Linked DNA regions of Homo sapiens: region 1 is reported to be linked to region 2. Evidence: microRNA targets listed by miRTarBase, many of them from high-throughput screens and not tested one by one. Region 2 holds a microRNA gene; the other region holds the end of a gene's coding sequence.

Evidence for each region. The annotated mature microRNA hsa-miR-412-5p reads UGGUCGACCAGUUGGAAAGUAAU and lies in region 2 at 2,632-2,654, opposite strand. An mRNA with a match to its seed (bases 2 to 7 or 8) in the 3' UTR can be bound and repressed. Matches are read on the target gene's strand: a 7mer-m8 pairs with bases 2 to 8, a 7mer-A1 pairs with bases 2 to 7 and ends in A, and an 8mer does both.
Region 1: miRTarBase lists TM9SF3 as a target of hsa-miR-412-5p. Seed matches in the 3' UTR shown: 7mer-m8 at 4,526-4,532.

The regions. Positions count from the first base shown.
Region 1 is chr10:96,517,258-96,522,635 of GRCh38, forward strand. TM9SF3 (transmembrane 9 superfamily member 3) reads right to left here. Exons shown (of 15, transcript NM_020123.4): 15 at 853-5,073. The coding sequence ends at 5,006. Among named protein-coding and RNA genes, the nearest start is that of TLL2, 6.0 kb to the left of the region's middle.
Region 2 is chr14:101,062,741-101,068,118 of GRCh38, reverse strand. MIR412 (microRNA 412) reads right to left here and starts at 2,672; the gene lies at 2,582-2,672. MIR541 (microRNA 541) reads right to left here and starts at 3,624; the gene lies at 3,541-3,624. MIR409 (microRNA 409) reads right to left here and starts at 2,819; the gene lies at 2,741-2,819. It overlaps MIR369 (microRNA 369), which reads right to left and starts at 2,521; the gene lies at 2,452-2,521. It also overlaps MIR410 and MIR656.

The DNA.
Region 1 (5,378 bases), not on the chromosome of region 2:
AAATAGACATGGAGAAATTAACCACTGATTTCAATGTGGCACAATAAAAATAATCTCTTCCATTCGTATAGAACACTAATTTTCAATGTGACTTCTACATATATTACCTGCCTCCCAGGCTAGAGAGGGTGACACCCCCATTTTACAGTTACAATAGTCAAGACAACAGGGCCCTGAATCTTGATGACTTCTGGGCTAAACATAAGAGCACCTTTAGCTGTGGTTTCTTATCCATAAAACACAGCTATCTACTCTACCAGCTTCACAGGATGGTTGTGAAGGAACAAGTGAAACTGCTTTGAAAAAGTAGTAAATGCTAAACAAATGCAAAGAATCATCAATCAGAGGATGGCAGGCAAATAGATGGTAAAGTCTGAGTGTAAGAGTCAGAATAGGTATACAAAAAAGTCAAAAGAATGGCAATAAAAGAAAAATCATTCTTAAGAAAGACCAATCTTATTCACTGGACCATTCTCTCAACTTTACTGTATATTACAGTTCACTTTTGAAATACAAATTTAAACCTTAAATTTTAAATACATCATTCCAGGGGTTAGCGGACTATGGCCTGTGGGCCATTTTTGTGAAGTTATACTGGAACATAGCCATGCTCATTAGTTTATGTAGTCTACTATGGCTGCTTTGGTGCTACAACGATAGTTTCAACAGAGACTGCATAGCCCTCAAAGCTGAAAGTATTTACTATCTAGACCTTCACAGAAAAAGTCTGCAGACCCCTGCTTTAATTGTGGAAAACTATTACTAAGTTATTCATTTGCCTGTCAATAATGGGTTATCCCTTATGCTTGGTTCATGTTTCAAAAAGGAAAGAAATAAGGAATCCAAAGGAAGTACATTTAACTTTTTATTACTTTTTAAAAATCCAAATTCAGATAAATTAACACACTAGGTTAGAACCTCAATTGTATTTGATACATTATATACTGGATTTCTATTACTAAAAAGCCAGTTGGAATATGGCCTATACGAACCAAAGAGTGTATACAAAATGGAAGTGGTCATCAGGCAATAATTGTTTCCTTGGAACTCTGCACCGACTGTCCATGCTCTGTGGGGACTTACACATTCAAGTTTGACAGTTGAAAAACCAACTGGAGCTGCTTTTCCAAGAATGTTCTGTTGTCCTTCAAATAGAATTCCATGTTATTTCTTTCTTGCCTTAAGCTCTTATATCTTTCAAATGACCTAAGCTGATGAACTGGAGTAAACACAAACTGCTGCAGTTATCAATTAGCAAGCCTAGTTCACCAATACTTCAAAATAAACAGACTTCACAAGTTTATTTCCATTCCTAACAGTGGAATAATAACTTAATTTTGTTTACTTTTGTCTTTGTAGATTTCTGTCTGCAGCTCCAGTAAGAATGCCAAATCAGATGGCTTTTAGGAAATGCTCATAGGAGAGAACTAGAGTTATTCCTCACACTGAATTTAAGTCTTACCAGATTTCTGCAGGTTCATATGTTAACGTTCTGATCTAGCCTACCTGTAAGTCTAGTTTATTTCTGTACACACTTCCAAATACTCTTCATAAATTTTCACTTCTGACTGAAATATAACACCTTGATTGATAGTTTCATAACTATAGAATTTTAGTGAAGATATAAAACATTAATGAATACTTGTGTTTTAATACATCACTACTCCTATTTATTACATGTTCCAATAAACCAATAGAATGAAGCACTAAGACACGGTGAAATCTAAACTTAAAACCCAGATGGAACTGCCATATAGATTACAAATGGGTCTCCCCACCACAGAATTCATATACAAAAGCCCTTCGGTATGTAGCTTTTCCTGAACAAATACATTAATACACTTTTTGTTTTTTACATTTGTAAAAATTCAAGGTTTTAATAACATTTCTTTGCAAGACATTTGGTATAAGGTGGTTAATAAATATTAGGAAACAAACACTGTACCAAAATGGATATGACTTGTGAATAAACCCTAAATAAAGTGGCTTTTGGAAGAACTGGATTTTGCAGCAACCAACTTTATAAAGAGGTCCATCCACTCTCAATGGAAAACACCCAAGCATACCATTCACTAGGTTCGGATATCACCATAATATAATGAATTCTAAGAGTATGGGGTTTGATTTATGGGCAACCCCAGTACAATCTAGGAGCCCAACATGATGAAAAATACTAAAAGAATGCTTCACCATCCCTCAGGCCATTACATTTCCACCTTATCCTACTCTTGTATTAGGATATATGTATACAAATGTCAACTACTAATGTAGTTAAATTTCAGGAGAAGCATGCTTAAAGATACACAAGGAATGTTTAGCCTTAGTTTTTGATAGTATTATCCAAAGTGTGAGTTGAAAGAAATTAAGCAAATAATGTTAACAAACGAAAGACAGATACACAGCATTAGTGGGGGTATAAAAACCTCACCTTTCAATTAACTTGAATAATGTTCTATTTTCTATTCTACAACTGAGCGCTAGGGAGCTAAACTATTTGTGAATTACATCTTCTTTAAGAAGACACACACACACGCACACACATACATACACTTATTCAACCCCTCTATGCAGCCAAAAACCAATACAAGTCCTTTTCTAAAAGACTTTAAAGGTGATTAATATTCATTTAATGCTCTTAATGTATTTGGAAATCAGAAAATTATTTTTCACCACAGATTCCAAAGAACTTCAAATAGAGCTCAATTTAGTAGAAAGAATTGGTGTACCTGAAAGCATTTAACCCACACATTTTCAATAAACCCTACATCTTACCTGCAAGATTCATATCATGAGAAACAAATTTCATTTTATTAAGACAAAACCTTACTGTCCAATTTATACTCCCATCAGACAGACTATGTATTGGTATGTTAAAAGTACTTTTGAATAAAAGTGGTGAGAAAGAAACCAAAAAAGTACTTTATATATAGTTAAAAGGTTACATAATATAGGCAACTAAATATTAACTTTTAGTTTCTTTTTTATAAGATCTTAAAGGCAAGTAAGAAGGAAGAGAAAATGGAAGTACCAATAAATTATATTTAATATACCATTTTGGCTTCAGAAGAGGATTTACCTACAGCTTCTGATCAAATTTGTTGGATCATATCAATCATACTTAAGTGGTAAGAAATCATACTTTTCACCTTTTAAAGGACTTACATGTCACAATATAGGATGTAGAGTCCATCAATAGATAGGTACATATTTTGTAATGAAAACATCTTGTGTAACTATTAATTGCATGATTTTCATATTAAGGTTTAAATACAGGTGTTTTGAGTCTTTCTAAAAATAACAATATAAAGTATTGTTTTAGGTGGTCATTTGCATAGCAAACTATTAAACTAGAAACTCAGTGGTTCTAGGAAAACTTCATATTATGAATAGTTCCAGAAAAATGTATTCAAATCACTTCTCTTACAAAACTGTAACCTTTATTTGTTGATCCAACAGTACGTTAACCACTTTTACCCCATCCCCACTTTACACGGTACACCAACCTGAACAGATTTTGTGCCACAATTTCATTCAAAGGGTTTGTCATTCACTTTATGATTGTGCTGGATAATCTAGATGTAAGCAAGTCTGGAGATTTTAAAATACGGGTCCCCTGTATGAGAGTAGCATAGTTTATAGCATACTTTTAAAAATGGCATTCGGTAATTTTGCCTTCTGGACAGAAAGATATCTTCAAATTGCAAACACATCTATTTCCACAAAACAATTTGGTCAGGAAATTTTATTTGAACATTCTAAAGCAATAATGCTTTAGATGTTACTTAAGTGTCCCAGACAGGATTAACAAAATTAAGTGTCTCTAAATTACAAATTTGGCTCCTGTAGGAGTCTCAGAAAATAAACAGAAGAAAACAACCCCCCTCCCAAAAGAAGTATGACACACACATTTTGAAGAAACCCCAATGTTTCATGCAATGGTAGGCAAGATGTAAAAGCCCACCCAAATCACACATTTCTACACCAATCATCATAAGAAAAAAGTACTCTGTAGTCGATCTGTACATCCAAATGCATTTGGGAATCTACACCTACGTTACATTATTTAATGTTATATACATTTATTACCCACCCCCCTTGTTTTTAATAATTTCTTATGTAAAACCTTCATTCAAACCCAAAAGATTTAAGACTAACTTGGGGGGAAAAAAGATAATCACTTTAGACATTCAGTTAAAATGTAGTTTATCTAAATCTCAAAATGTTTAATAAAAACAAGTATCTTCTCCATTTAACACTTTGCTTTCTAACTGTACAGTAAATTGCATTGTAGAGAGTACACTTCTGTCTTCAAACTGTATCTTCTTTGGATGGAATTAAGATGTAACTGTATAGTTTTAAGATAAATAAATGGGAAGTTGGTCCAACTAAGATGACAGCAGATATATTACATGCAGGATTTAATATTTTCTAATTCTCTCTTTTAAAAAAAAGGATGCTGTTGGATTGGGAAAAAAAAAAAGTCAAAAAAGAACCCAGATTCAATATATAAAAATGTCCCACAATAGGTCGACAATGGCAGTAAAAATAAGAGGAAAAAAGTAATCTTTCTGGAACATCATTTTTCAATAACATAGAAACACTAAGTGCCAGGAAGATTCCTATTCATGTAATTTTAGCATCCAAGTTTCCCTCTATTTATTTTATTGGAACAAATGCTTTAAATAAACTATTTGTCCTCTTCACTGAAGAGAGCTGGTCTATTTCATCTTTAATGAGCTAGTTTTTGGGAAGATTAGCCATGTACTGTAGTAATGCCTACTGCATAAAATCCAAGCATTTGCTGTGAACAGTTGGAGAAAGCAGTCAGGAAGAACCTAGGATCAATGGAAATAGATGTTACTTTAAGCCACCGACGAAAGAGAGACCCACAAAGTACCCAGTGTGTTAAAGCCCAAATCTCTTCTTGCGTTTGTTTGTTTTTGCTGTGCAAGTTCCACCCCTATGAAAAAGAAATTGATCCAAAGTTCCAGGTTTTCTTGGGTCTCTAGTCAATTTTCACATTAGTATAGATTTTTCGGACAAAGGCACTTGTTCCCATGTAACCAATCGCTCCTGCAAAGATAAAATAAGATGTTTTGAAACAAATACATACAGAGCAGTATCCATCATTTAAAAACACTAAATACTCTATGCTCTGGAAAGTTATTCTTTTTTAAAGAAAATATCCTTATGTTAGTATTCTCTCTGAACTTACTAAAACTGTATCATTTGCTTTGCAAATCACCTGATACCATAATACACTGAGTCTGACCATCATACGCCAAGTCTAATCAAGTAGCAATTATTTCTTGTATAATCAGTAACTACAGAATTAAAATACATCTCTTATAAAGCAAGAATAATTTGATAATGGCAAA
Region 2 (5,378 bases):
AGAGAGAGAGAGAGAGAGAGAGAGAGAGAGAAATTTCTGCCAATGAGAAATCTCACAGTCTAGGGCACAAAGAAGGTAGACATTAACATTAGGCAATTTCAGAGAACTGTAAGCTAGGAAGAAAACAGTAACGGGGCAACTGGTAGAATGTGATAGGGAAGAGGCAAGGGGAGCTGCTTTTATAGGGTTATCAGGGATGACCTTGCTGAACAAGAGCCATTCCATCCCCTTGGGAATTGTGAACCCCTGGGAAAGGAAAATGCAAAGGATGTGGGCCTTTAAGGAAGGAAGGGCCAGAGCCTGGACAGGAGGCAGCCGAGGGCAGAGCAGGGCGGCCCAGGACCCAGCTCCGGAAGGAGGGGCATGTGCAAGGCCAGAATGAAGGATGAAAACACGTGGGGGATAGGCTGTGGCTCCAAAAGAAGAGGGGGGCTGCCACTCTGAGGGCCTGGGGGGTCCTCGGATCATTTTGGTACCAAGCCCAAGGGAAGGGGCCTGCAGAGGTGCCCTGGGCAGCGGAGTTAAACAGCTGGACTCTGCACTTGGAAATGCTCTCCCTGGCAGAGGGAGGGGCACTGGAGGGAGACCCAAGTGCCACAGGCTGGAGGGACCTAGCCTGTGGGGCGGCCTCTCCAGCAGGGCTGTGGCCCAGGGGCTGGGGAAGAGGGGTGCTGAGGGAGAGTGGGAGCAGGCAGCCCAGAGGGATGGTGCCAGGGATCCCCACTCCCATGCTAGGCATGGAGAGGAGCGGTCCCGAGGAGGAGGACAAGGGGGAGGGCAGGCACAGGCTGTGACTTCCAAGGCAGCGACGTCTCAACTAGGGGATGACGGGAGCCCAGCTCAGGAAGATCTCCCGAGCCCAGGAGCTCACTGATCAACAATGAGTGATAAAGGACAGCCTTAGCTCATTCTTTGGGGTCACTCCTGAGGTGCTCCTTGCCTTCAGCCCTGGACCCTGGGCATGGGCAGCATGTTCTGGAGTCACTAAGTCTCCAGGTCAGCTGCAAACAGGCCTCTGGTCATCTTCCTGTAGTCTGGGCAGGCCAGGGGTGCAAATATGACATAAGCATCGGGTAGCTGAGAGCCAGCCCAGCCTGGGGGATGTGCCAACCGGAAGCAAGGGCATGGCGGGTGCTCCCGCTGACACTGGAATTGGGGATGCCATTCTGTCACACTTCCAAAGCCCCCCAGAACAGAGTGGAGCTGGAAAATTAACAGGCCAAGTGACACAGGTCCTACACAAAGTCCACAGGGTCAACCAGCGCAGAGCCAGCTGCTGCCTGGAGTTGACAGCAAAGAGGAAGGCATCCAAGGTGGGATTCGATATCGGAAAGAGGTTGACTGTATAATATTCATCATATAGAAAGTGAACACCTCACAGGCAACCTATTTCAGGTACCACTGAGCAGCACTGACTCCAGGGAGGAGGCTTCTTCCACAGGGAAGGGCCCTGCCACCCACCCGCCTCCAGGATGGAGGCCAGCACAGGGCTGCAGGTGGAAGTCAAGCGCGTGCTCGGCCACCAGCCATGCCTCTGGGGGCCCACAGGGCGCGCAACCGGACCTCCCCGACATCAGCAGGTGCAGGAATCATGCAGGTGGGATCTGATACTGAAGAGAGGCCGCTCGTGTCTTGTGTGTCATGATTTCTGTGAATGCAACACAGGCCACCTCTCCTCAGGCACCACAAGGAGCAGCACACGCACACGGCCACCCAAGGCACCAGCTCCCACCCAGGGTCTCACAGCACTGAGATGAGCAGAAGGCAGCCCAGGTGCAGGGAATGCATGCAGCCGCCCCCAACATCCTGGCGAGGGGTGGGTGGCCTTCCAGCAGGATGCCTTCCAGCGGGACTAGCTCCCCCGTGTCCTCTGCCTCGATGACACTGGCCATGAAAAACAGACTGAGCCCCGTCACCATTGCTCATCAGCTTCATGACCGCCCCCCACCACAGTGCACAACCCTAGCATCTTCCCCAAAGTCCACATGGCCCCCCGAAAGCTCTCCCAAAATGATTCAATGGCGGGGGTCAGGGGAAAGGATGACAAATGTCACACCAGCCCATGCATTCACGTACCCTGGAAAGTCCCGCCTCAGGCGTGGCGCCCGCACACCACCGGGCGGTAGCGGTACTGAAAACAGGCCATCTGTGTTATATTCGTCATTAATAAAAGCGAACTCATCACAGACAACCTCTTCTCAGGTACCCAGAGTGCCATCGGCTCAAGAACGTGGCTGCCGCGTCCCGTGGTGCCAGCGCTGCCCCCGGGAAGCAGTCCTGAGGACGGATGGGACATCAAAGGTGAGAAGACACAGAGACAGGAAAGAGACCCCTGCCCGGCCCACTCTCGGTGACCAGGCCCCACTGAGGCAGCGACTCCAAAGCACCCGTCCTGCTCCTACCCTCAAAAGGGCTTCATCTCCAACGGGTCCTCCAAGGTGAGATTTGATACTGAGAAAAGATCAACCATGTATTATTCGAAGTCAATAAAGCGAATATAACACGGTCGATCTCCCTTCAAGTACCAGGAAAGGCGCTGAGCTGAAGCGCGATCGGCTCCCCGGCCCGCAGGCCCCACAGGCTGCAGCGGATACGGACGGCTAGTGGACCAGGTGAAGTACATTAGAAACAATTACTTTCCAACTGGTCGACCATCCATCCCCGTACCCCAGAATGGTGCTGATGCCGGCGTCCTTCCCCGAGGTGCCCCAGCCTCCAAGACGGCCTCCCTGGTGGAATTTGATACCGAAAAGGGGTTCACCGAGCAACATTCGTCGTCCAGATGCAAAGTTGCTCGGGTAACCTCTCCCCGAGTACCATGGAGAGGCTCAGATGCTCGGACTAAGGTGAATGCTTGCAGGCGGCTGTGCTTGCAGAAGACCCTCCCCCAAGGGCAGCACAAGGTCTGGGCATTCAGAGCCCAGAGCCTCACACTCTCCAAGGACGTTCCCAATCACCAAGTCCAACGATTCCAACCCCTTCCAGAATGAATCTAGAGACTCTTCCCAGAAGTTGAGTGCAAGACCCAGGTAGGATCTTATACTGAAAAGACGGCAACCTTCCTTGGGCACCTTGCTAAAGATGAAAATGAAACCCTGCTCGCACCCGCTTTTCATTCCCAGACCCTGAGAGGGGGTGACCCTGTAGGGACCCCTGCACAAGCACAGAGCCTCCCTCCCAGCAGAGGATTCCTTTGGCGGGAGCTCAACGGGGCACAACGCTGACCCCAGACCTGCGGTCTCACCAGCACCATCTCCAGCCCACAGAGGCATCACCCCAGGATCCCTCAAAGAGTAACTTCACAGTTATCAACAGCTGGCTGACCATCTGATTAGCCTCATAAAGCAAGTGAGACATTCAAAATAAGGGACTGGGGGGATAAATGCAGCAGAAGAAAGCAGGTGAGTCACAGATGTCTTCTCTTCACAAGGGTCAGGGCAGCCCTGACCTCAGAACCCAACCTTCCCCAGACTCAGAGAACACCCAGAAGGTGCCTCCTGGAGCGGGCAGCCAGCAAGCATCGGGCCAGACGATGGATGCCACAAGCAGAGTCCAGATTCTGTGCCCACCACCCATTCTGTGAACTTTGGAGTGGGACCGACAGCAGAATCCTTTCCCTGACGTTGGCATGAGCTCAGAGAGCCCTCTGCGCCTTGCTACAAGTGGAGCAAGAGGCCAGCCATGCGAGGCCTGCTGTAAAGAAAGAAAAGATGTCACAGACGACTTCCCTTCAGGAGCCATGGGCACTGACCTGCATCAGAGCCTCCTTCCTGGGGCAGGCATCACCTCCCAAGGTGGTCCCGGAACGCACCGGAGTCAGCAGGAGTGGAACAGATGACATGCACCGTGGGTACAATCGGGCCTGTCCCATGGGCGGCCCTCAGGCACCTGCCCTGGAGAGGGCTCCGGCTGCAGGCCGCCTCCTGAGGGTGCTGTTGCTTCTGGAAATTCTCCAGGTAGGGTTTGATCTGAAAAGAAAGCCATGTGCAATGCTGGTCACCAACAAAGCAGGCCAGCAAACAACGAGCTCTTTCCACAGCCCCAGCAAGGTTTTTGACCTTGGAAACATCAACTCCAGAATGACTTTCAGCCTCTATGACCAAATGACATTCGGCACCAACGAAGGGCACGTCCTTGGGGCCAGCATGGAACCATGTAAGGTATCAACAGCAGAGTCTGAGGAAGGACTGAACCCCAGAATGTTCCTGGATGCCTGTGTGTTCATCAATAGCCTTGGAAGTGTGAAAGGAAAGTTATCTCGGGCCCCTAAAATCACTAAGGAAAACTCAAGCTGGAAGCTGCTCAGGATAAACCTGCCTCTCATTCCATTCAAAGTCATCCCTCTGCTCACTGAGACAGATGCGTATCTGATTTGCCTCCTTTGGAAAGGCTCATGAGAAACGCGAAAGAATGTAATCATTTGTGTATCACCTGTCTGTGACCTGGAAGCTCCCTCCTTCCTGCCTTCGCTTCAAGTTGTCCCACCTTTGCAGACAAAACCAATGTACTTCTTACATGTGCTGAATGATGTCTCATGTCTCCCTAAAATGTATAAAGCCAAGCTGTGCCTTGACCACAGTACTTCCTGAAGCTGTGTTACGGGTGTATCCTCAACCTTGTCAAAATAAACTTTCTAAATTAACTAAGAGCTGTCTCAGATTTTCTGAGTTCACAGAAGCAACTGTCCTGAAAGACCAGACCCCACTGACCGTAGAACTTCTGCTTCCCTCCGGAGTCAGCGTCTCACCCAGAACCCTCCGTGGGGATGGAGGGAGACCAGGTGATGCCTGTCACTTACGTATGAATGCTCTGGGGACAACATGCACCCAGATCCCCGGGAGGACGCCTTACCAGTGTGTCACGCCTGAAGTCAGCACACCTTTCCGGGAAGCTCTCGGGAAGGTTTGGGGCAGCAAGAAAAGATCAACTGCATAAAGGGGGAGACTGTATCCCATTTTTTGACCCTAGGTTCCTACTGACCCCACCAACTCCACTGTAAACACGCACAAATGTAACCACCTTCACAAGAATTGTACCAACACTGATATTCATAGAAACGTGTTTTTCAGAGCCAATGCCATTATACTAATCCAATTCCCTGTTTAGCTTTCCTGACCGCGCTGTTGAGCTGTTTTCATTTCTCTTATTTCCCTTGTTATTTTCCCCAAATCATTTTCATTAGGATCAATTTTTTCCATTTAAAAATCTGCATGAAGATTTGATTCCTCAATGTGTTCTTGTCTACATCAAATATCACTGTTTATCACCGCCGCCACCGTGAATTTCCTTCCATGGCTGCCACGTCGGCAGCTTGCTATTTCCCCAGGTCAAATGTCACAGCTGAAATGTTGTCAAGAAAATTGGATTCCTCTGCCAAT